Homo sapiens: one gene and its partners. The protein of the gene in region 2 interacts with the protein of the main gene of each other region in a pairwise test. Each region holds a gene or a part of one and is shown on either strand. Other genes may lie near its edges.

Evidence for each region.
Region 1: the proteins of CDKL3 (region 2) and ATG4A interact in binary tests that used the Homo sapiens proteins (3 or more experiments, as listed by UniProt).
Region 3: the proteins of CDKL3 (region 2) and DNAAF6 interact in binary tests that used the Homo sapiens proteins (3 or more experiments, as listed by UniProt).
Region 4: the proteins of CDKL3 (region 2) and ZBTB43 interact in binary tests that used the Homo sapiens proteins (3 or more experiments, as listed by UniProt).

Annotation. Positions count from the first base shown.
Region 1 is NC_000023.11:108,150,736-108,155,179, reverse strand, and holds the end of ATG4A (cysteine protease ATG4A), read right to left. Parts: intron 3,379-4,444; coding exon 3,322-3,378; intron 2,202-3,321; coding exon 2,093-2,201; intron 1,539-2,092; coding exon 1,468-1,538; 3' UTR 509-1,467; downstream 1-508. UniProt on the Homo sapiens protein: Cysteine protease that plays a key role in autophagy by mediating both proteolytic activation and delipidation of ATG8 family proteins.
Region 2 is NC_000005.10:134,308,126-134,315,175, forward strand, and holds part of CDKL3 (cyclin-dependent kinase-like 3), read right to left. Parts: intron 5,793-7,050; exon of another isoform or gene 5,286-5,792; intron 4,256-5,285; coding exon 4,167-4,255; intron 603-4,166; coding exon 449-602; intron 342-448; coding exon 13-341; coding exon of another isoform or gene 9-12; exon of another isoform or gene 1-8.
Region 3 is NC_000023.11:107,209,602-107,216,651, reverse strand, and holds part of DNAAF6 (dynein axonemal assembly factor 6), read right to left. Parts: intron 3,780-7,050; 5' UTR 3,777-3,779; coding exon 3,624-3,776; intron 1-3,623. UniProt on the Homo sapiens protein: Plays a role in cytoplasmic pre-assembly of axonemal dynein.
Region 4 is NC_000009.12:126,829,040-126,836,039, reverse strand, and holds part of ZBTB43 (zinc finger and BTB domain-containing protein 43), read right to left. Parts: intron 3,554-7,000; 5' UTR 3,531-3,553; coding exon 2,127-3,530; 3' UTR 1-2,126. UniProt on the Homo sapiens protein: May be involved in transcriptional regulation.

The DNA of each region.
Region 1 (4,444 bases), on a different chromosome or scaffold from region 2:
GTGTGTATATGTGTGTGTGTGTGTGCATATATTTATATATGTATAAAATATATCCTCTGAGAGGATAAACAAGAAATTAATACCATTGGGAATTTCCAAGGGAGGGAACTGACCTATCGGAGAGAGAGACAAGTCACTGAATATCATTTTACATCTTTTGAATTTTGAACCATTGGAATATACGGGGGGAAAAAGAAAAACATGGAATCTAAGGAAACAAGCAGATTGGTTTGGTGCTAGCTTCCAGTTGCTGGCCTTCCTCGGGACTTGATTAAGGATGGGGGTGAAATGCAGGCAAGTTAAGGAAGCAAGAAAAGGAAAATGAGAAGGTACTGCTGGGGCTTGAGGTTCATCCTCACAGGAAAGTGGTTAGCAAAGCTAATTTGATGAATACATGCTTTAAAACCTATTATGTTGCTAGCCTCAAATGGTTTGGAATTGTATATGATGCACAGATAAAATGTGTAATTCACCACATGAATAATTCTAAATATGGCTGTCAACCAAGTAGGGTATACTTCAAACACAATTTATTTTTAATTTATCAAACAAAAATCAACAATTTAAGTCACTGATTGGCAAGCTACAGCCTGCAGGCCAAACCCAGCCCTCCACCTGCTTTTGTAAATAAAGTTTTCTTGGATTACAGCCACACTCATTTACACGCATATTGTCTATTGCTGCTTTTGCATGTCAACAGCAGAGTTGAGTAGATGTGACAGAGGCCGCATGGCCTGCAAAGCCCAAAATATTTCCCGTCTGGCCCTTTACAGAAAAAGTTTGCTGACCCCTGATTTAAGTGATCATGATTTAAGGACAGGGTGATATCTGACAAAAGTATCAGTAAGAATGGGGACAGTGACCCATCAAATAGTAAGATCCCCGCAAACAGAAGGGAGATCAAGAAGTGTATATTTGACATCGTTTCTTTGACAAACGTTTTGATATAAATTATAATTACTTCAACTACACAATCAAATAATTTAACAAGAACCTTTTCCTCCCTGATTCAGTCACTTTATTATTTGAGCAAGAGAACAGATTGCTGCTTAGTCCAAAAGAGGTCACATCTGAAAGGGTGAAGAACAGCTTAACCATCTCTTATCTGCTGGTTCTTGAAGCAAGCTGAGAGTTGCTGTTTGTCTTCCAGATGCCCATTTCCTCATTGCAGCAGCTGAAGACTTGCTGTAGCCATATAACACAAGCTGGGAAGCAATGAACTCCTCCTCATCTCTCTGCTCCTAGGCTCCATGATTGTTCTATTTCTTTCCGGGGAAGGGTTACTGTCATTTGTTTTGTTTTGTTTTGTTTTTCTGAGAAACAGTGATTGGCTCAGTCATGATTGCTATTGAGTTTGTATGCTATTGGCATATCAGGCACTTGCTGACTAGAAAAGTTTTATGCAATAAGTTCATGTTTTTATGGTGCCAGATGGAAGACAGACCTTCAAGTTGAGTTCCCAGGATTCTACACACTCAGAATCTCAAAATCTTCCTCCAGATCAAACTCCTCCAGTTGCTCAGTAGAGTCAATGAATTCTATCAGAATACGGAAATGAGAAAGAAGAAAAGCTTGACACTTGGGTTGAAGTGGTCAGTAAATACTTTACTCAGTAGTTAAGACTAAGCATTTTTAATTGCTGTACTAAAGAAAGACTTGTGTGGAGGAGACTTACAATTAGAACTACTGCCAAGTATTAGAAATTATCTATAAAGACTCAAAATAGCCAGACTTGTTACATAAACCTAACGACGGTGATGTGGCCAAGGCTCTGAAAGCCCTTCAAGATACCTTTGAATTATCGATGGCCTCAATTTGCTATTCTGAACCAGACCATGAAAAAGCAATCCTAGTCATCTTGATTTTGCATAGAACTTTTGCAATGAGCTCATTTTCTTCTATTATCATTCTTTGAAATTGGTAAATATCAGCTCATCAGAAGATTAAAATAACCAGAAGTGCCATTTTTTTATCACTCCAGCTGAGTAGAAATTTTACTGTCCACAGAAAGCATGGGCCACAATTCTTCTTTCTCATAAAACAACTGCTATATGTGGGTCTGCTAGCTGAGAGCCATTGAACAACAGCTTACCTGCCCCAGTGGTTGTCACTTCTGGCTTGGCTGGAGGTACAAAGGGAGGCCAGTGTGATGGATGTTTCTGAACTAATTCAAACATCCTTAAATTCTCCTTTAGAATTTCCTGGGGAGATGACAAAACAGTTTTAAATACTTCAGAGTCACAACATTTCTAATTGGCAATCTTTGACCCCAAACCCTGAGACAGTGGTCTGCTGGTTTCCAGGTGAAAACAGGGGCCTAGAAAATACATGCATCCTCTACTTGAACCATCTGAAGACTCAGCCATCTTCAATTCTAGATACTGTTTAGCCAGGAAGGAAGGACTTTGCGGGGAGTATCTGATGAAGGCCAGCACTCACTGCCTATTCTCCATCATGAGGCATAGTGCCTGTGCCAGACGCATGGGTCCAGCTCACTTTAGGGGTGACATGTTCCTGAAGCACTGGCTCCAAAGAAATGTCAGTTAGTGAAATTAAATCTGCCCCAAGAGACTATTGCTACATATTGGCATGGTTTCAGTGGCAGTCCAACATGTATGGTATATATCCTAATTTACATGGCATAGTCTTAGCTGGGCACGGTGACTCATGCCTGTAATCCCAGCACTTTGGGAGGCCGAGGTGGGCAGATCACCTGTGGTCAGTTCAAGACCAGCCTGGCCAATGTGGTGAAACCCTGTCTCTACTAAAAATACAAAAATTAGCTGGGCGTGGTGGTGGGCGCCTGTAATCCCAGCTACTCGGGAGGCTGAGGGAGGAGAATCGCTTGAACCTGGAGACGGAGGTTGCAGTGCACCCAGATCCCGCCACTGCACTCCAGCCTGGGTGACGGAGCGAGCCTTTGTCTCAAAAAATAATAAAATAAAATAAAAGGCATAGTCTTATCAGAAAATTCTCATTCCACCTTTAAATGTGACATAAATACAGTTTTGCTGCATTCTAAAATGTAAGTATTGCCTTTAGAAAATAATTGTCTATTAATGAGATAAAACATTAGGTTTCATCACTAAAAATATCACTCCCTTGACATGCTAAGCATATTTCAAACCAAAATTTTTGTTCAGTTTCCCCGAAGTTATGCACAATTCCCCACACCTGATAGTTTCTTTGTTGCCTTAGTTTCTTTCTCTTGCAGTAAAGTCGTATCAGAGTAGGATTTTTTTTTACTATGAAAAACAATCTTGAAAAGGAATAAAATTGGGTAACTTCATTTTTCAGACTAAGAAAAACATATAGCTTTACCTTCTGAACAAGGCTACACCAGTTATCAAAGTCTTTTTCTTCTTTGCAGAAAAATCCCTTGGGGGAAAGCAAAAGAACACAACTTAGAATTACCTTTGGTATTGCACAATGGAGCTGTTGGCCCAGAATTAGGATGTGGGCCAGTCTCTGTGGATGTGACTTCTCAGCAATAAAGAAGGAAGACTGCCTGGGCTTCTCTCTCTCCTAACTCATTGCCTTACTCAGACATACATATCACTCTCTCAGTCTTGCTCTCATTCTCACCCTTGCTCTCTGTCCCTTTCCCTCTTTCCTCATGCTGCGAGATATTTTAACTTGAAGATCATCTTCAAAGTGTAGGGTTAATTCCATTACTTTCAGTGTACAAATACACACATCTCCAAAGAACATTCAATTAAGCCAACAAACAAAAGCCAAATGGTACTTTTAGCTAGAGGCAATACTTAAGAAGATGGCATTGACCTTCAGGAAATTATCTATCAGAATAGAGAGAACCATCAGTCTGTGCTTTCTCAACCTCAAATCCATCCCAGAGTAGTGAAAGAATGGTTCACAAGAGGAGGACTTGCAGCTCCTGGTCACTGGTATACTGACAATTGGATTAAACTAGAGGAGAGGATGCAGACAGGCCTCAGAACCACCAGCTACTTCACAGGCAGATGCCCCTTCAGTGTGTGTAGACACCAGCCATACTTCTGGGGGAAAATCCTGCAGCTTCCTAGATTGTGTGCACCCAGGGCATCTTGCTCCCTTATCTCTCCCTAGTGATATCCCATCTTCCTCCCTGTGCCTGGGTAGCAATAATTTGAGGACAAGAAGGAAACAGGGGAAAGAGTAACTAACATTTATAGAATGCTTACAATGTGCCAGGCCCAGTGCTAAGTGCCTTACATGCATTGCACCTCATACAACCCCATAAGGAACGAACTATTGTTTTCCTCATTTTAGAGATGAGAAGACTGAGGCTCAGAAAGATTAAGTGACTCCTCCTAAGTGCGTAGTTAGTGATACGGTTTGGTGGTGTCCTCACCCAAATCTCATCTTGAATTGTAATAATCCCCACGTGTCAAGGGTGGGACCAGGTAGAGATAACTGAATCATGGGGGTGGTTTCCCCCATACCA
Region 2 (7,050 bases):
GTTACAGCTCACCTCACACTGGGGTGAAAGAGATTTGAACTGAGATTTGCAGCCATCAAATTACTGTTAGTTAGATTGATGGGTGGCATTGTCACAGAACCTCCGCAATGTGGATTTTCTTTCAAGCCATTACAGTTAGTGCTGGGATTGATAGGGTTTGGTGGTTCAATGGTTACAAGTTTTGTATCTGGAGACATAGGATGAACATTTTCATTTGCATCCTGTTGACCAAGTCCACCTTCATACTCTTTCTTTTTTGGTTCTGAGATATCTCCTCTTCCTCCTTTGACTTTAATAACTCTGACTTTGATCTCCTTGGGCTTTTTCTCTTTTTCTATTTCCTGGAATAGATACATCCAAAATCTGAGTCATCATAACAGTTATTTTTGTCATTAGAGTCTAACTATAATATAATTATACTGGCTGAAACAAAAACCAAAGTTCTTACCTTTCCCAAAACTGAACTACTTAGCAGTGTATTGGTATAAACTGTTTTTCTTTCATCTTTCCTGAGTTCATTTTCTTTAGAACTCTCTTTTGGCTTTATTAATGAATTGACTTTTGCTTCCTGCAGTAATTTAGCTTTCAGTTCTGGCATGAATCTGACAAAACAAGCAATATCAACGAGTAATCTTTTTATATATGCAGATGGAGTATTTTATCTTGAATAAACCATTTCATCAATTAATGTACATTTCAGCTACAGCATAAATAATGCTAACTATAATGCATGTCAAGAGATGGCCCAACATTTACCTAATAAAAATTGCTTTCTTCTAAAGATACATCTTTCGAAAATTATGCTATGGGAACCTACTATATAAAACTTTTACAAAATAGATTTATACTAATTAGATTCCTTCTGCGATGCAAACTTTACTCAGAAAAATATTGCTTTTAATTTTGATAAAGATACTGTTATTTTTAAGGAAGACTCAGACCACTTTGACCTTTTCTGTGGTTCTTCTTTTTTTTTTGAGATGGAGTTTCGCTCTTGTTGCCCAGGCATGAGTGCAATGGCACAATCTCATCTCGCCACAACTTTCACCTCCTGGGTTCAAGCGATTCTGCCTCAGCCTCCTGAGTAGCTGGGATTACAGGCATGTGCCACCACACCCAGCTAATTTTGTATTTTTAGTAGAGACGCGGTTTCTCCATGTTGGTCAGGCTGGTCTCCAACTCCCAATCTCAGGTGATCCACCTGCCTCGTCCTCCCAAAGTTGCTGGGATTACAAGCGTCAGCCACTGCACCCAGCTGTGGTTCTTTAAAGTAATAGAACTTTAAAAATGAACTAACTAACTTCTAAAATCTTACTCTAGAGAAATGTAACAGAATACCTTCATATTGGAGAGAGATTATTTTGGTTTTAGTTTGATTTCTTTCTTTTTAAAAGTTATTTTTGATTAGAAAGTCCATTCATGTGGTTCAAAGTTCAAAAGTCCATACTGAAAAGTTTCCTTCCCACCCCTTCCCTGAACTGCACAAGTCCCCTCCTTGAAGCAGCTACAGCTATCAGTTTGGGAAGGTTTTAAAACATCAGCCCATGAATGAATTCTTCCCTAGTCCAGCCCACTCTTCTGAGGATTCTATAAATTGAACTCAAGGTACTTTCACCCCACAATAATAGAAGCCTAATATCTAAATGTCCAAGAAAAATAAACTTCGTCTGTGTAGAAGTGATATGAAGCAACCTCTTAATTCAATAACTGGCATCTTTTCTTTTCAGACACGGTCTCTCTCTGTTGCCCAGGCTGCAGTGCAGTGACACACTCATGGCTCACTGCAACCCTGACCTCCTGGGCTCAAGAAATCCCCTACCTCAGCCTCCGTAGTAGCTGGGACTACAGGTATACACCAACACACCCAGATAATTTTTGTATTTTTTGTAGAGACAGGGTTTTGCCATGTTGCCCAGGCTGGTCTTGAACTCCTACGTTCAAGCAATCCGCCTGCTTCGGCCTTCCAAAGTGCTGGGATTACAGGCATCAGCTACCATGCCCAGCCAATAACTGCCACTTTTTATCAATGGCACTTCATTTTATTTTTTATTATATTTATTTATTTATTATTATTTTTTGAGACAGAGTCTCGCTCTGTCACCCAGGATGGAGTGCAGTGGCACGATCTCCACTCACTGCAAGCTCTGCCTCCCGTGTTCACACCATTCTCCTGCCTCAACCTCCTGAGTAGCTGGCATTACAGGGGCCCGCCACCACACCCAACTAATTTTGTTTTTTGTATTTTTAGTAGAGACGGGGTTTCACCGCGTTAGTCAGGATGGTCTTGATCTCCTGACCTCGTGATCTGCCCGCCTCGGCCTCCCAAAGTGCTGGGATTACAGGTGTGAGCCACCAAGCCCGGCCTATTCTTTTATTTTTTGAGACGGAGTCTGGCTCTGTCACCCAGACTGGAGTGCAGTGGTGTGATCTCAGCTCACTGCAGCCTCAGCCTCCTGGGTTCAAATGACTCTCCTGTCCCAGCCTCCTGAGTAGTTGGGACTACAGGCACATGCCCACGCCCAGCTAAGTTTTTGCATTTTCAGTAGAGATGGGGTTTCACCATGTTGACCAGGCTGGTCTTGAACTCCTGACCTCAGTTGATCTGCCCACCTTGGCCTCCCAAAATGCTGGGATTACAGACATGAGCTGCAGCACCTTGCCAATGGCACTTTAAATATATCATCTTATTGTTTGTTTTAGAGTAAAATTCCTGAAATGCGCAAAGTTCTAGTCACCCTCAAGGATTCTCTTCGCTTTTTTCTATTTAGTCTATCTCCAATAGCAGTTCCTGGACTCTTCCATATCTGACCTTAGCTCCATCACATTTTTAATGGATGTCCATCTTTCTAACGTCACGTCCAAAGACAAGCTGAATGGTTTTACAGTTAATGAGAAACTTTTCCTGTTTCTTTCAAAGCCCAAATAGAAAATGGTGTTTTTTTAGAAATATGGCTGATTCATGAATCTAAATTGTAATACAGATTATATGCTGGGCATGTCATAGGCAATGTGGGGCACAGAAGGGCCATAAGAAGCATGGCACCTGTCTTCAGGGAACTTCCAATTTCATGGGTAGGATACAACAACAGGCACTGCAGCCGGGCGCAATGGCTCATGCCTGTAATCCCAACACTTCGGGAGGCCAAGGCGGGTGGATCACCTGAGGTCAGGAGTTTGAGACCAGCCTGGCCAAAATGGCAAAATCCCCATCTCTACTAAAAATACAAAAATTAGCCAGGCGTGGTGGCATGTGCCTCTAATCCTAGCTACTCTGGAGCCTGAGGCAGGAGAATTGCTTGAACCCGGGAGATGGAGGTTTGTAGTCAGCCGAGATTGTGCCACTGCATTCCAGCCTGGGCAACAAAGCGAGACTTCATCTCAAAAAAAAAAAGACAACAAGCACTGCAACAGAGAATAAGTAGAAAAAAAATCATTTGGGAAGTGCATGCTAATTATGATAAATGAATGTCATCAGAAGAGGAAAAACCAGACTATTCTCTGAGTCAGAGGTCCAAACAGGAATAAAGCTAAGAAGTATTGATTGCTTATTTAATGTTATCTCTGGTCTATGATGACACTGAAACTGTAGTATGTAAAGAGCAGAGCACACTGCCTAGGACATGGTAACTGTGTAACGAATGTTAGTTGCAATTACTTTTTATTATTAGACTTTCTTTTTCTTTTTTTGAGATAGGGTCTCAACCTGTCACCCAGGCTGGAGTGCAGTGGTGCAATCTCAGCTCACTGCAACCTCCACCTCTGGGGTTTAAGCAATCCTCCCACCTGAGCCTCCCGAGTAGCTGGGACTACAAGCGTGTGCCACCACACCTTGCTAATTTTTGTATTTTTTGTAGAGACAGGGGTCTCTCTATGTTGCCCAGGCCGGTCGTGAACTCCAGGGCTCAAGCAATCTGCCTGCCTCAGCTTCGCAAAGTGCTGGGATTACAGGTGTGAGCCACTATGCCCATCCTATTATTAGGCTTTTCATTCGTGACACTTGTTAAGTCTGCTGTCTTCCTAGTCAATACCTGATACAATAACTCAATAAATTTTTGTTAAACTGAATATTTGTTATATAAAAGTAACCTATACAGCAATTTTCCTGCTAGTAAAATTTCCCAATACAAAATGCTTTTAAAAAACCCACATTCACTCAAAATGCTTACTTTTCAATAAATCCATCTCTAGTAAAATACTCATGATGCAAAAGATCACTAGATGATATCCTGTCAGCAGGATCAATTTGTAAACAAGCCTAGGAAAGGAAAAAGATTTTAATAAGTGAGCTCTCAACAGGGCTCCATATGGTAAAAATTAAATTTATTTGACAAATTAAGAAGTAAGTAATTATCCAGATCAAAAAGCCTTCTTGAAAAGATGGAATTAGACCTCAGGAACTTCTGGTAGTAAGTTCTGGCTGTTTATTTCCCTAAGGAATTTGCACTTGCAAAACATTATTATAGGTTAAATGTCCCATGATTCTAGCCAAAACAGAGGTCAGTCTGTTTCTGCTGAAATTAGCAAAAATTAATTAGCTCATTTTGATCCTCTTTTCTGCCCTGACAGGTGGAAAGTTCATGGATAATCATTTGCATTTTACAGATCTAGAAGCATGATTAGTAGTTTGCCAAACACGAGTTTTAACCCATGTTGTCTGACGCCTAATCCAGCACTCTTTCTATATCATAATACCATTTTGCAAATATTCAAGTCCCTAAATCTTTCAATAACCCATTATTAAATCAGCTCTTTTCTGTTTCCCTTTCTTGGTATAGAAACAAACAAACAAAATATGGAAGGTAGTTTTGAATGTTAAGTTGTACATAATAAATCTATATGTAGTTAAATAACAATAATTATAAATGGAACACATTTCTTTAATCAAAATACTGAAAACAGGTTTTCAATAAAAAGCATCTGCTTTATAATTTTCATTCCTCCTGTGAAAGGAGGTAAAACATTAATAGTTAACTTTTTTGTAGAGATGGGAGTCTTGTTATGTTGTAAGGCTGATGAACTCTTGAGTTCAAGCGATTCTCCCGCCTCAGTCTCCCAAAGTGCTGGAATTACAGAAGACAGCCACTGTGCTTGGCCTTTTAAAATTTTTTAGAGACAGGTTCTTACTCTGTCGCCCAGGCTGGAGTGCAGTGGTGCAATTATAGCTCACTGGAGCCTTGAACTCCTTGGCTCAAGATATCCTCCTTCCTTAGCCTCTTGAGTAGCTCAGACTACAGACACATGCCACCAAGCCTGACTAGTAACTTTTATTGATGCTTACTACATACCAGACAACGCTCCAGCTTTTTCTTCCTTCCATCGCAACAACAATCCTACAAAGTAAGTATTATTATTATCCTCATTATACAGATGAGGAGACTGAGGCCCAGAGAGATCAAGTAATTTGTTTAAGATCTCATAAGTAGAGGAGCCACAATTAAAATCCAGCAAATCCAAGATAATTGTATATAATATTATGTTTCTGTTTATTTCAAAATGCATATTTAAACTGATTCACAGAAAAAAATCTAGAGATCTGCTGTACTATAATGTGCATATAGTTAAAAATGCCATACTGTACACTTAATAATTTTGTAAGAAGGTAGATTCCATGTTATGTGGGGTTTTTTTTTTACCAAAATAAAAAACATTGATTCACAAGGAGAAATTATTTAAGTCTGTTACCTACTTAATGATGTGGCAATACCTAGGTCTTTAAGACTGCAACTAGTTGGCCAGGTGTGGTGGCTCATGCGTGTAATCCCAGCACTTTGGGGGGCAACAGAGGGTGGATCACCTGAGGTTGGGAGTTAGAGACCAGCCTGACCAACATGGAGAAACTCCGTCCCCACTAAAAAAAAAATAATACAAAATTAGCCGGGTGTGGTGGCACATGCCTGTAATCCCAGCCACTCGGAGGCTAAGGCGGAAGAATTGCTTGAACCCGGGAGACAGGAGGTTGCGGTGAGCCAAGATCACGCCATTGCACTCCAGCCTGGGCAAGAAGAGCAAAGCTCCGTCTCAAAAACAAAACAAAACGAAACAAACAAATTAAAAAAACCCTGCAACTAGTTAAAAATATGTGCTCATTTTAGAATATAATGGTAATCTATCACTAAAACTTATAAGAAAAATGCTAAAAGGTCTGACCAAATCATAGGGGCAGACAATTAGAGGCAGTCCTTCTGTGAATATAATTCAGTAAATTTAAATATATGCCCTACTTTGGAAAATGTAAAACATGACACTTTGGGAAACAGATTGGCAGTTTCTTTAAAAATTAAACATATGCCTACCCATGACCCAGCCATTCTGTTCTTAGATATTTCTGCAGGAGGAATGAAAATACAATGTGTGTTCCATACAAAGACAAACATGAATGTTCTCATGGCAACTTTATTTGTAATAGCGAAAAGTGGGAAATAACCCACATGTCCATCAACAGGGAAAGGATTTTTTAAAATGTGGTATAGTCATATAATGAACTACTACTCTGCAAAAAAGGAACAAATTGCTGATACATACAAAAACATGAATGAATCTCTAAACCATTATGCTGAGTGGAAGAAGCCAGACATGAAAGAGTGCCTACTGTATGCTTCTATTTATATAAGATTCTAGAAAATTCAAACTAATCTATGGGAATAGAAAGCAAATCAGTGGTTATCTGGGGACAGAAATGGAAGAAAAGATGAATTGTAAAAGGACACAATGAAATTTTGGAGAGTGATGGAAATGTTAGGTATCGTGTGTGTGTTTGTGTGTGTGTGTGTTAGGTATCCTGATTGTGGTGGTGGTTTCATGTGTGTATACATGCATCAAAACTCTTCAAATTGTACATTTTAAGTATGTATAGTTTACTGCCCACAAATTATACCTCAATAACATTGTTTAGAAAATTTATATCTAGGAAAAATATGTGCCCTACATCAGATATCAAAGTGTATTTTAAAGTTACAATAATAAATCAAAGTTGTACTACTTCTAGAATAAAGAGAAAAATCAATGGAACAGAAACAAACCCACACATGTATAAGCATTTTGTCTATGATA
Region 3 (7,050 bases), on a different chromosome or scaffold from region 2:
TCAATATTCTGTAATTAATACTTGTATAACCTATATGACTAGTGATACTTTAAATTTGATAGGATTTCCATAAAAAAACTCATGGAGCTTTCCACTTTAATTACCCATCATTGTTATAAAACAGAAAGACAGATGTCAAGTACTATTTCGAATATGCTTTCCTTGTTCTTTCAAAAAGTGTTTGGTTTAATAGACTCAAGAGCAGAATTGATCTTTAGTCAGGCTAAAACCCTAGTTCCAGCTCAGTGAATCATGTATCCCTGGGGATAGAGGAACGAGCCACATTCATCTCTATGAAGGTTAGAACCAAGTATTAGTATAAAGGCATTGACACTTTTGGGGTTTAGCAGTGTCTGGTTGTAGTCAGATGGAGGACAGAGTATGTGAAAGTTTTATAGAAATAAAAACTAACACTAAGCAGAAGCTAAGTATTCAGACTTCAGATTAATCATTCAAAAGCCCTGATAACTGCTTTTACTTTTTTCCACTATAGGTATGAAACACTTCCCTGTCCCACCGCCTCATGACACTGAACTAGTGGATTTAAACAGCAACCACAAATTAATAGTCTCTAATACATGCTGATGTACTTCAGTCTTCATAACTTCATAAGTTTATTTTTCCATCTTCTGCACAAGCATACACATCCCCAAAGGACTTGCCCTGACTCACCAATACAAGCAATCTTCATTTTTTTCAACTAAGTATAACACATAGCGACACCACCTCATTGGCCCGTCTCAGGGATTCTTTGATATTTCAAGAAAATCCCAATTTCTTACCAATTGTTTTTTGCTGATGACAGACCCTGCAGCTCCAACTCACTCCACTGCTGGCAGTCAAAAAATTCTTATCTCCTTGCCTACTGGCCAACTAGCACCTCTATCTCTCTTTTCTCAGGCCCCTGTCCTCATCTCCTAAGACTTTAGACATGTACAAAAGTTAGAATGTCTTGTTTGGGCAAGGAGAGTAGTGTCTGTTCTTGAAAGCTGATGGAACAGCTCACGTGGGTCTTTATTATGTGAAACTATTCCAAGAGTTATAAATCAGAAATTAATCTATAATCTCTCAACAGTGTCTGAGACAGTAACTATTCCTTTCCAAAAGGTGTTTCAAAAGTGCTATGTCTGCGGTTAAGGCATTACAGGCATTTTTATGTGAAAATCCCAAGATAATATTTGGGACATTTTTTTCCCTCTTTTTTAATCACTAATGTCATGTAAATGTGTAGTACTTTTCTTAAATTATTAATCATCAGAACACTAATAGTCAGAGTAAAGCATTTCTCAGAACATGAGGGCCTCTTGTTTAGTTGAGTGCTGCCTTCCACAGAAAATTAAAAGCAGTAGAAGTAAAACCTTGGACATTCTTGACAAAAATTGGTATACTTTCCATGGACAGTGATTGGCTCAGAACACATGGGAGTTTCAATTTATTAATTTAATGAAAATAAATGATTAAAAATAAAATTTTCAAGTTAAAAGATGGAATGGGATCATAAAAACATTAAAAACCATCTGGCAATTGTTTTCTATTAGAACATCATTTGAGCCTTTACCATGAATCTACAGCCAATTATCTGAGCAATTTATCACTGCAATTCATGCCACTTTGTAATATGTAAGACAGAACATCCTCGTTATAATGTCTGTGAAGAGCAGTGAACCTTATTTCCCACAGGCCTTAAGATCCCCTCATGGCTTTGAAAAATGACAGACACACTCTCTCCTCAATCTCCCAGATTCTTAACAAGTCATATAGAAAAGGGATAGTGTAAATGAAGCAATGTGTATGCAACTGTTCTCTTGCTGTTTTCAGAGAGCATATTTTCAAAAACACATCACTCTTGTAATCATCCCACAGTTCCCAAGATTAATACATGTTAAAAAATGAAAAGCAGTTTCTCTCCTGGAAAATGTAATAGTTCATTAGAAACATTAATTATTCTCCCACTGTTCTGATACTGTATGTCCTCTAATGATATCTGTACTGTGGTGTCTGAATGACCAATTATCTCAAAATTGTTTATAACCCAGATATACAGAATCATACATTATTATAGTAATTTTCCTTTATAAACTGTACAACTCAGTAATATTATGTTAGTCTATTCTCATAAGCACTCATCTTTTCTCCTAGAAACACCTCTAGATGCAAATAAACACCTCCAGCCATAAACACCAAATGGAATAGGCTCTGTAACCAGGGTAAATCCTTATATTTGAATCTGTCCCAGTTACAAGTTCCACTTCACTATATTCAAGGTCACTGTTTCTCAAATACTTGATATACTTTTTCTATATGGCATAACCTTACCTTTCCTAGGATGTAGGCTCCAGAAAATTATTATTCTGCTACTCAACTAAGGTAGCAAAAATGAGCTTGCCTTCCCAACTTCATTGATACATTGTTCCTAACTTTTTCTCCTGTATCCTGTTTGTTGTGTATAGCTAATGCTGTCATTAACATCCTGATGTTTCTTTGTTTAGCCTCTACTAAGACTTTTCCCTGACTAAAACTTCCTGGTTCCTGATCCTGGCTCCAAGCTGACTCAGTTCTTCTACAAATGTTATTCCCATTTCACATCTTATTTATTCTGCCCTATTCCACCTAAGCTCTTCCTTAGGGTGGTAGCTCAGTTCAGTGTCAATCTGAGCCACTGAATTTGCTGCCTGTTCATAGCTTGCTTTTTTCTCCACATTGTGGCAAAAATAAATTTTGGGAGGAGTAAATTGATATGTACGTTTGTGAAAGATGATTTATTCATGATAAATTGGTCATATAACAAAACACTTCATTAAAATAATTTTATGCAAATTGACAGATTCTGTTATGATATGGGATTTTTTGCCCCAAATTTTGTTTGCCCTATCATAGGCAGTCTGATAGCCAAGGCTCACCGATAGTTAAGAAATAGGAGAATGGAGAGCAGGGAGTTATATAAAAGTGTTTTAATTGTTCTGGGAATACTGGCAGTAACCTTGGAGTGGTCAAAGGTCAGTTCAATGAACTCTTCTACCCAAAATGAAGCCCATCTTGCTACTGCAAGCCTTGCTGGCATTACCTATCTTGACCCCAAATGCTACTCAACTAATTAGACTCCACAACTTTATTTGTGCATTACTGGGAAGCCAATTTTGGTAGGCTGAAACTAGTTTGCCCTATTATTTGGCTCAAAAACTTTCTGTTCTGCGTTAATGTGTAGACAAATTAAAAAATTAAGGGACTGGTACTTGGTGGTCCAATTAATACTGTATAACTGAAAATATTTGTTTTATAGAAATATTGCCTAGGCTTAAACAATCCTAGCTACCACTCTGCAATGGTTGTCAAGCATTCTTTGGCTATAAATATAAATGACAACATTTTGAGATGTGGCTATTGCTACCACAGTTACAGAACTATTTTCCTATTCAGTGTTCAGGTGGTTTAGAAAAATATAATTATCTTTGCTAGAAATGTACTACAGGTTACATTGTCATGCATAATCAGCCTTGTAGCTTCCTGTGAATGTATCAAATGACACAGCTCTGTTCCCACAGCTAGGTGGGAACAGGTTATTCAAATACAGTTCCACAACTTCCCATGAACAAAACTAATTCAACTGTTAAGTATATGACCACCTGTCCATAGTCAGAATCATCCTCTTCTTCAGGATTAAGTAGCTTAGAGAGGGCTTCCAGAGCTGTAACTGAAGAAACACTCTCAAAGTCTACATTTTGAGATTCCATATTTTCTGTCTTCATATTTTCAGAATCCATATTTTCAGATTCCATTATCTGAAGAAAAAGATAATCAGAAAGAGGTATTTTACTTTTCTGTTTTATTTAAGACATGAAGATGTTTTATTGTCATATCTCCCTTCTTTCCCTGGATCACTCCATTGGTTCTTATACTTCCTTGGAAATCCTTTTAAACTCCTTCAAATATATGTATTTTGCTAACTCACAGACCTGGAGCACCAAGTAAACTCAAACATTCAGCCTGCTTTACTAAAATGTCATACTCAAGCTAACAAGCACTTATTGAGCACCTAGTATAGTGGTTCTCGGGTTTTAATGTGCTTAATAATCACTTGGGGGAGTTGGTTTAAAATGCAGATTCTTAAGCCCTACCTCTAGAAAAAGTGTATGATACATTATGTATCATCATTTGGGAACATATTTTTTAGACATGAGCAGTGCTTCAGGGCAGAAAGGTTGAAGTCATGGTTACAGGGAGACCTATTTAAAGTGAAGAAGGACGCTGGCCTATAGAAGGTGGGGTACAGTTCTTGAGGTTTGTGCACAAGTTGACTACTAGAGATGAAGGTTCAGAATAGGGCAGAATAGGGCTCAAAGTTCCAGCTGGAAAAGAGAAAACAAACCAGGCACTGTGTCGGTGGCTTTCTCGTGTCACCTAGGTACCCACAGTGGAGGTTATGAAGGAATGTTATGGTTCCTTTGGTACATTGGATACTGGATTCAGAAAAACCAGATTAATTCTGAATCCCTACCAGTTATTTGGAAAGGAACTCTGGCCTGGTTCTCATTAGGTGGGAAGTAGGCCAGTGTGAGCAGTGGGAAGCTATACCTGTAGATTTAGTGTCTTTAATAACTGCAGCTGGCACATAGTCAGCAGTTGATTAATACCAAATGAAGCATGACTAAATTCATCTGAATGTTATATTTCAAAATAGTCATTTGGAAGGTTATACACTGATGTAAATTATGCTATCAATGCTCAAAATATTTTGGGATTTTTCTTTTTATTTGGAATTGCCTTCATATGTATCACCAAGAAAATAGGTATCATTATGGTATCATTATGGTATCATTTGGTTTGATTACACATCAGATTTGTCGCCAAGTGATTTCTAGATATATTTAGATATCATGTCTACTTTCAAAATATGAAGATTTTCTTCTTTGAGGATATTCAAAAGAATGTGCTACATGCCTCAAGGTGATTCTAAAACAGAAGTTTCAAAAGCAATTTTAGCAATAACAACAACATTAGAGTAAATAGATTAGTCTCCTAAAGTGACTACTTCGAAGGGGATGGTCCTCCTTGGAACGTGTACACTTGTTTTTGTTAAATTATTCACAATAATTCTTAGTAACACTTTATATATCTGAAGCATATTAGGAGTTAGACTTCTTAAAGTACAATTGGACTTCCAAATTATGCTGGAATAAAATGCCATAGATTTGCACTATAGCTCAATTAAAATAGAAATATAATAATAAAATTACCACTTTAGCCAAAATATTTTTGCCATATCAAATGTAATAATAATCTGTAAACACAAATTAATAAATCATGACAACAAAAATAAATAAATCAATCATGACAAGTTTGTTGATATTGTATTTTGATAAACAAAAGAATCCCAAATATTTTGTGACTAACTAGTTAAATGGTTCAAAGTATCAAAAGAGAAAAACAGTTTGTGAATTTTTAGAAAAAAACATTCAAAATTCAATGGAAAGGAAGATTCTACTAGCTTTTTAAGAAGTCTAACATATTTAGAATAACTTATTCAACTTTATTAAAAAACATTTATTAAAATTCATTTGACACAAGTGGATCACAGCTGAAAAACTAAAACAGGAGGACTTTTTAGGAACTACAAAGAACTATTTGTAGGGAACTATCTTCACTACAATGAACTATGCAGTGTTAGTTTATAGCTCTATCTTTTATTTCTAAATGTGATATACATTTAAGTTCATCCTGAGTCTGGCAATCAAGGTCCTTCAGGATATAGTCCCAACGTAATTTTCTGTCCTTCCCTTCTATTATTCTCCTACATATTCTGTTAAAAACTAAACTGCTTATTAAACATACTCTATAATTTCCTGCCTTTGTACCTTGGAGTGCATTCTTCCTTTTGCCCTGACTTATTGGATAGTACAGTGTAGCGATTTTTAAAAAGAAGATTCTGGCCGGGTATGGTGGCTGACTGACGTCTGTAATGCAAACACTTTGAGAGGCCAAGGTGAGCTCACGGGTCACGTGAGCTCAGGAGTTCGAGATCAGCCTGAGCAACATAGCGAAACCCCGACTCTACAAAAAATACAAAAATTAGACGGGCGCGGTGGTGTGCCCCTGTGGTCCCATCTACTCAGGGGCCCGAGGCAGGATGATTGCTTGAGTCCCAGAGATGGAAGTTGCAGTGAGCCCAGATCGGGCCACTGCATTCCAGCCTGGGAGACAGAGTGAGATCCTGTTTCAAAAATAAATAAATAAATAAAATAATAACAATAAAAAATGAAAAAGAAGATTCTGGAGCCACACTGCCTAAAATGTTTGAATCTGGCACTGTCACTTAAATAGGCCAAGAATAAACTTAAAGTAAGGAAAATTTAAGAGTTTCAGTAAAAACAAAATATATTACTGTCTTTTATTTGAGATTTGTATTTAGAAAATAAATTTTTTAGGCCCTTTGTTTTTCTTTCTCTCCTTCTCTTTTGCTAGGCCAATGCTAATGGCAACATTTTCCAGACAGAGCCTTTGATTTTCCCACATTAACCTGAGTACTTGGGGTCTTCATAAATAGAGGCATGATTGGACCATCTACTAGCCACAATGAGCTAAAGCAACTGACACTCCAGAACCAGCTCATTACCATAACACTGGAGCCAGTCAGGGGCTGAAAAAGTTCAACCAGATTGGCTCCAGACCCACAGCACTTAAGCAACATCAGTAACCTTGAGTTAAAGTCAGACTGGTTCTAAGGCTGGGATCATGCTTTCTATTTTATTTGTCTCCTTCACAGTATCAATAAAGATGGCTTTTGACATCAGTTAATTGTAGAAAAGTCTAGGTTAAATTAGTGAAAACTCTGAATTACAGACTATTCAAATAGATAATAGATTTTATTAATTCAAGTATATATGGTAAATAAAATCAGGGTGATAAAGAACCACCAAGCAGGGCTGGGCGCAGTGGTTCACGTCTGTAATCCCAGCACTTTGGGAGGCTAAGGTGGGTGGATCACCTGAGGTCAGAAGTTCAAGATCAGCCTGGCCAACATGGCGATACCCCGACTCTACTAAAAAACACAAA
Region 4 (7,000 bases), on a different chromosome or scaffold from region 2:
ACCATGGGAGAGGGTGATCAGTTTTTGGCAGAACAAAATGGCATCACCACCTTAGTACTGAAATTAGTAGGAGTAATAGAACAATTTCTCCTCAAATATAATGGCTAGGATCATACCTAAAACCCACTGGCCTCTACCATGAGTGAAAGAAAAGGAGACAATAGGCTTGATTGTACAATCCCCTCAGTATACGTGTGTCAGGTACACAGAGAAAAGACTGCTAACCAGTAACGTTTCAATACTAAGAGAAGCTATTAATGTGGCAAACAACCAAGAGGTAATATCTAGTTTCTAGGTTTAAAAAAAAACAATATATATATATATTTATAATAAAGTTTTAAATACAAAGTGCTTTTTATATATCGAGAATGATACAGTGTTGTGAATAAATCCCTGTTTGTAATCTTGCTTACAAGAGTTAACTGGTAAATAAGTATTTTCTTTCCTCTTTCCAGACAATGTTCAACAAGTAAACACCCTGGTGTTAGGAGCTTGAGAATCAGAGGCCATTGCCAGCAATGTCTATTACATTACAGCAAAGCCAAACTTTTCAAATAAAATTTCACCCCAAATCCAAGAAAAATTATTTTTATTTTAAGAAAAAAAAGTTTCTATTTAGAAGTAAATAACCCAGTACGATTGTGGAAAAGATGACATGGTAGTAGCACCCTGTCCTACCCTGGTGATAACCTCAGGTATGTTACACAGCTTAAAAGCATGTGCAATATTACCTTTCTTTTTAACCTAAATCATCTAACTGATGGGCAGAAAAGGTCTCAGAATAGTTGCTTTTCTTGTTTGTTTTTTTAATTTTTTTTTTCTGGTCGGCGTAGCTTTGTGGACTTTTAAGTTTAAGCAGCTTTATCTATAATGTGGGAGCATGGTTCTGTAGACTACCTTGCTAAACTTAGGACTCCTTTTACAAACACATTCCAGTGCTCATAAAGAACTGGTAGTATTAGCTCAGTGTACCCTCTAAAGAGTATCTCCCCCACCTTGAAAGAGTGTATTCTCAAGATTCTTCTTGGGCAGTTTTGTCCCCCTTAAGTATAACCACTCATAGAATCCTGCCTATCTGCCCTCTCACTCTGGTTGGTGGAGTGTCACCTTAGCACTCTATGAACTACTCAAGTTCACAGGGAACTCTCAGCCACAACTTGTGGCTCCTTCTCACTAAGTGTGGTCATGGACCACTCTCTTTGTAAAGCACCATAATCTAAGACAGAGCAGGGGCTGTGGCAGCCCGTGGTACCGTGGTCAGTCACAGCAGCTTGGTGTCTACCAGCCACAGAGAAGACCCCACTGTATGGAGGCTACAATTAACCAAACAGGATTTGGGAAAGCAAACCAATGAGAAATACCTATCTCTGGCACCCTAGAGAATTACAATTAGATAAAATTGTCCAAACTCAATGTTAGAACTAAAATACAAAACACTGCCTTATCAAGAGTCTGAAACACCTTGTGACAGTAGTGGCATCTTACAGAAACTGACAAGGGCACTATGTCAGCCTTGTACCGTAAATTATCTGTTTCATATTTAGAAAGTCACTCTCTTAGCATCTCCATAGTTTTAGTTAAAATATCCTTTAGAAAGACTAAAACCAGACAACAGAGCTCTGTTAACCAATTTCTCATCCTAGGAATCACATTATTTCTAGCTTTTATATAAGTAGCACTTCCTTCAGTGAAATAGCTACCAAAACAAATCCACATTACCTAAGTATCTATAGCAAGAGCAAAATAAAATTTCAGCATGACCTTGTAATAATGAGTGATCCAAAGCTGCTGCCACCCAAAATGGAACTGGTGGGTGGAGTCCAGTTCCAAGTGCAGGTGTCTCTGTCCACCTGTTTCGATCACAACCAGTCAGAAGGTTTCCCTTGCCAGCTGGGCGGTGGGTTAACTCACCCCATTACCCATTCCAGGCCAGGACTGGAACACACAAATTTGAGGAATTAGATTTTTTTAATTGGCCTACTTAGAGCTGGTCTTTCAGAAATATCTTCCTTTTTTTTTTTAAGCTTCTCTCATAATAGCAAGTAGCACGCATCATCTGTGCCCAGATTTGCATTAATTACCATAGTTTATTTTTGTGCATGCCACTCAAGGGCCAGATCCTATTTTTAGTTAGCCTCAGTTGTATTCTGCTCAGCCTTTGCAGCTTCGTAGGACTTAGTACAAGAAGTCACATGCCGGTGGAAACTGTCCCTCCACATAAACCTCTTTGCACAGATATTACACTCATACGGCTTTATGCCTGTGTGAATTTTCATGTGGCCCACGAGATGGTGCTTCATTTTGAATTTCTTACCGCAGACCCCACAGCCGTAAGGCCGAAGACCGAGGTGCATGCTCATGTGCCGATCTCTCTGACTCTTGTGAGTGAAACTTTTCCCACACTGACAAGGATACAGCTTGTCAGTGGCTGAGAATCCTAAGTGGGAAGCTTCTTCTTTAATCCCTGTTACCATTTCAATATTCTCACTGTAACCTGCTGCGAGGGCAGCCTCCTGTCTGTGCCCAATTAGATTCCCATCTGACCTCTCTCCGGAAAACTCTTCCATGGAAGAGCCATAGAAATCCACCTGCTCATCATAATTGCTTTCATCAGCCTGTTCATCAAACTCAGCTTCCACTTTCTTCTCCCCGATGTGGAAGTCCTCCTCCACTCCCGAAGGCTGCACCGTGTGCTCTGTCTGCACGGTGTTGATGGACTCTGTGACCTGGTGCTCGTCGTAGGTCGCGTGCACATCCATGCCCTCGCAAGCCTGTTCTAAGCGCTCGGGCTTCACGTGGATCCAGCGTTTGTGAGCCATGATGCTGGGCTTGCTGTACATGGGCCGGGTGTAGTGGAACTCGGCGCTGTCGCTGGCGCCCTCCTCCCCATCCTGGCTTGCCATTTCCGTGCTCAGGCGGTCATGCTCTGTGGACGAGTTGCTGGGCAGGTATTCGTGCTCGGTGAGCTGGGATGACAGCTCGTCTTTGGTGCTCTCCTCTTCATTTTCACCATCTCTCAGTTCTTGGGCTTTGGGAAAATCAGTATGACCCCCAGAGCCCAGCTCAAAGCTCTCTACCAGGCCATTATAACTACTGCTGCTTGGTGACTGGTGGTCACTGCCATGATTTAGCTTCTGACAAAGGACTGTAGGGTTTCCCTCTAAAACTTCAGTGCATTTGTCTACCACATGCCACATCTGGAGGAAGCTTGCCGCTGTCAAGTAACTAACAATTTCTGGAGCGGGCATTACTAGACGTCCTGTATAACTAGATAGGAGAATGTTCTCAAACACTCTTGGGTTCATCACATCAGGCAAAACAATTCTCCTGCTGTTTTTCAGGAGTACCTGGTCACAAAAGTAGGGTGAACTGGCAGCAAGAACGGCTTTGTGTGCCCGGAAAATGTGGCCTTGGACAACAATGGAGACGTCACATAATTGTCCTTGCTGGCGCTGCTGGTTCAGTTTCTGTAGAATGGTGCTGGAAAAATCAGGAAATTCTACCCGAAAAGAGTTTGTTCCAGGCTCCATTTCATCACAAATCTTGTTCGGTGCTACAAGAGAAAGAAAAATTAGTACAAATTCCAGCCCAAAGATAAACTTATTTTATCCCCTCCTCCATTGTTAAGACAAGTTCCAAAGTTCCACAAAGTCCTCTAGCCTATGGGCCCCACTGGGTAAGGGATTCAATCCCTAGAGCAAAGCTTGCAGGTGCGTGTTTGCCAAAGGCAGGACTCACCACCACTCCTTGTGGAACTCCTGATTTTGGTTCTGTGTCTGTGGGTAAGAGAACTGAATCCATAGGGACAAGATTTGTAAGCTATACAAATCTCCCAAGTAAAACCAAGTACTGTAAATATTTACAGTTAAAACAAACAAGATACCCATTCAAATAATATAATTTTTTTTTAAACGAGATGGGGTCTTGCTCTGTTGCCCAGGCTGGAGTGCAGTGGCACAATCATAGTTCACTGCAGCCTTGAACTCTTGGGTAATCAAGCTATCATCCTGCTTCAGCCTCCTGAGTAGCTGGGACTGTATGTACATGCCACCATGTCCAGCTAGTTTTTTTTTTTTTTTTTGAGATAGAGTTTTGCTCTTGTTGCCCAGGCTGGAGTGCAATGGTGTGATCTCGGCTCACTGCCACCTCCACCTTCTGGTTTCGAGCGATTCTCCTGCCTTGGCCTCCCAAGTAGCTGGGATTATAGGCGCCCGCCACTACACCTGGTTAATTTTTTTTTTTTGTATTTTTAGTAGAGATGGGGTTTCACTATGTTGGCCAGGCTGGTCTCGAACTCCTGACCGCATGATCCACCCACCTCAGCCTCCCAAAGTGCTGGGATTACAGGTGTGAGCCACCACGCCAGCTGCCCAGCTAGTTTTTTTAAAAAATTAATTTTTTTTGTAGAGACAGGGGTCTCACTTTTTGCCCAGGTTCGTCTTGAATTCCTGGCTTCAAGTGATCCACCAGCCTCAGCCTCCTAAAGTGTTGGGATTATAGGCATGAACCACCGCTCCTGGCAGAATTTTTTTTTAAAGAGATGAGGTCTCACTCTTTTACCCAGGCTGGAGTGTAGTGGCACCATCATAGCTACTGTAGTCTCAAACTCCTGGGCTCAGGTGATCCTCTCACCTCAGCCTCTTGTGTAGCTGGGTCTATGGGTATATACCACTATGCCCAGCTCAAAATGACAGAACTTTTAAGCCTCAGATTTAACTGATATTTGACAGGTTGTGGTGAGGGTGGGAGAACAGAATGGTGGGAACAAGGAAAAGCATACGCAAAGGCTCCGAGGCAGGAATGCATTTGGCAATTGCAAGGAACTGAAAGGAGACCATTAGACTAGAGTACAGTCAGGGAGTGAGGGGCCTGGGGGCTTGAGCAGTGAGGACGGGACAATTGCACCTCTGGTCTTTCAGCACTAAAGGGGCACAGTCACTCAGGCCCTGAGCAATGCAGATTTCTCCAGCTGCTGCCAGAATTTTAGCCCTTTAAGAGCTTCTGAGAATATGAAACTGAATGAAACTGCAAGGTGAGGTATGCTTCTTATCTGGTGATCTCCAAACTGTCTATAGACCAAAGAGGATAGTAAGTCCCTGCTACTGAACAGAGTCGATCAGAAGACAAAGTTATAACGAAGACTAAGGCATTGCCTGTGTTGCTACTGTAAATATATTCTGTGGGGTAAGTCAAGCATTAGAAACAATTCCTAACAATGGCACACAAGATGAGCTGTGCTAGAGATCCTGCCCATACTCTGTAATTCCCCCAAATTCTGTAATTAAAGCAAAAAAAAAAAAACCACCCAAACGATTTATTACTGCATATGTCACCTTGCTCTGATACTACATCCAAACATTGCTAAATTACCAAGTCTTCTTTTGTTTTTTTGAGACAGGGTCTCACTCTTGTCACCCAGGCTGGAGTACAGTGGTGTGATCACAGCTCACTGCAGTCTCAAACTCCTGGGCTCAGGTGATCCTCCCATCTCAGCCTCCTGAGTAGCTGGGACTTCAGGCATGCACTACTACCACATCCGGCTAATTTTTGTATTTTTTGCAGAGACAGGGTTTCGCCACGTTGTCCAGGCTGGTCTCGAATTCCTGAACTCAAGCGATCTGCCCGCCTGGCCTCCCAAAGTGCTGGAATGACAGGCGTGAGCCACTGCGCCCAGCCCCAAGTTTTCTAAGTATGATATAAAAGAGCCAGACAACCCAGACAAAGACTGAAAGTCATCTTCGAGGGATAGGGAGAGATGACAAGAGAAGAAATGAAGGTTTCTTGAGTAATTATGATATGTTAGGGACTGATACCTTTTTTCCCACTTAATCTTTATAATTACTCTGCAAATGTAGGGCTTGATCGTCTGAAGTTCAGCTATTTTAAGTAACTTTCCCAAGGTTAAAAGCTAGTTTTTATTAAGTTGAGATGTGAATCCAGGTCTGGATGACTCTAAAGTCTATGTGATTTTTCTTATCACATCACTCTGCCTCCTCTAAGATGCCAAAAATGCCAGATTAGGCACTAATAATTTTAAAAGACTGTGTTTTTAGAGTGAAGTATTAATTTATCGTTTTATACATCTTAAAACATTTCATAGTAATTTAAAACAAAAATAGATCATGAAATAAATGATTTAGGTATTCGTAATTTCAAAAAGAAAAGTTGACTATATAAATGAGTAGACTAAAAGTATGTAAATTCTGGAAACTACATCTGGGTGAACAGATTCTCTGCTAGATCTCACCACTGTAGAATTTTGCTTTTAGCTATTTGAAAAAGGGGGTGTGGGATATAACACATGCACATGTAAAAAAAAATTATAGAAAGGTGTAAAAAAAAAAAATCTCTCCCATCATTTATTCCTAGTCTCCCCCAAAGGAAATCACCATTAAACTCCTGTTTATATCTCTAGAAACTTCCCTGTGCATATATCAGAATAAATCATATACATCCTTTAAAAATCCCTACTCAACTGGGTTCATTACCTACATTTTATTCTACACTTAGCTTTTGTCACTTAATATATCTTGGAGATCTTCCCACATTAGCACAAAAAGAGCTAACTCATTCTGTTTAATGGCCACATAGCTTTCTATTATATGGATGTATCGTAATGTAAGCAGTTCTCCTCTTACAGAATTTCAGTTGGCAGGGGTTGTAAAATCACAAGCAATGCTACAATAGATATTTTTGCATAACTATCTTGCATACCTTTGGAAATATTTATAGCTTAATTTCTACCAGTGGAACTGCTGGGTTAAGGGGCTGTGCATTTGACATAGCCTTGAACTCTTGGGTCATCAAGCAATCCTTCTGCCTCAGCCTCTCAAGCAGCTGGGTCTATAGGCATGCCACCATGCCTGGCTAATGTTTTTAAAAAATTTTCTGATACATATTACCAAACTACTTGCCAGAAAGCCTGCACCAAGTCACACCCTCACCAACAATCAATGACAGTGTCTACTTAGCACACTCTTACAAGACTGGATATCATTTA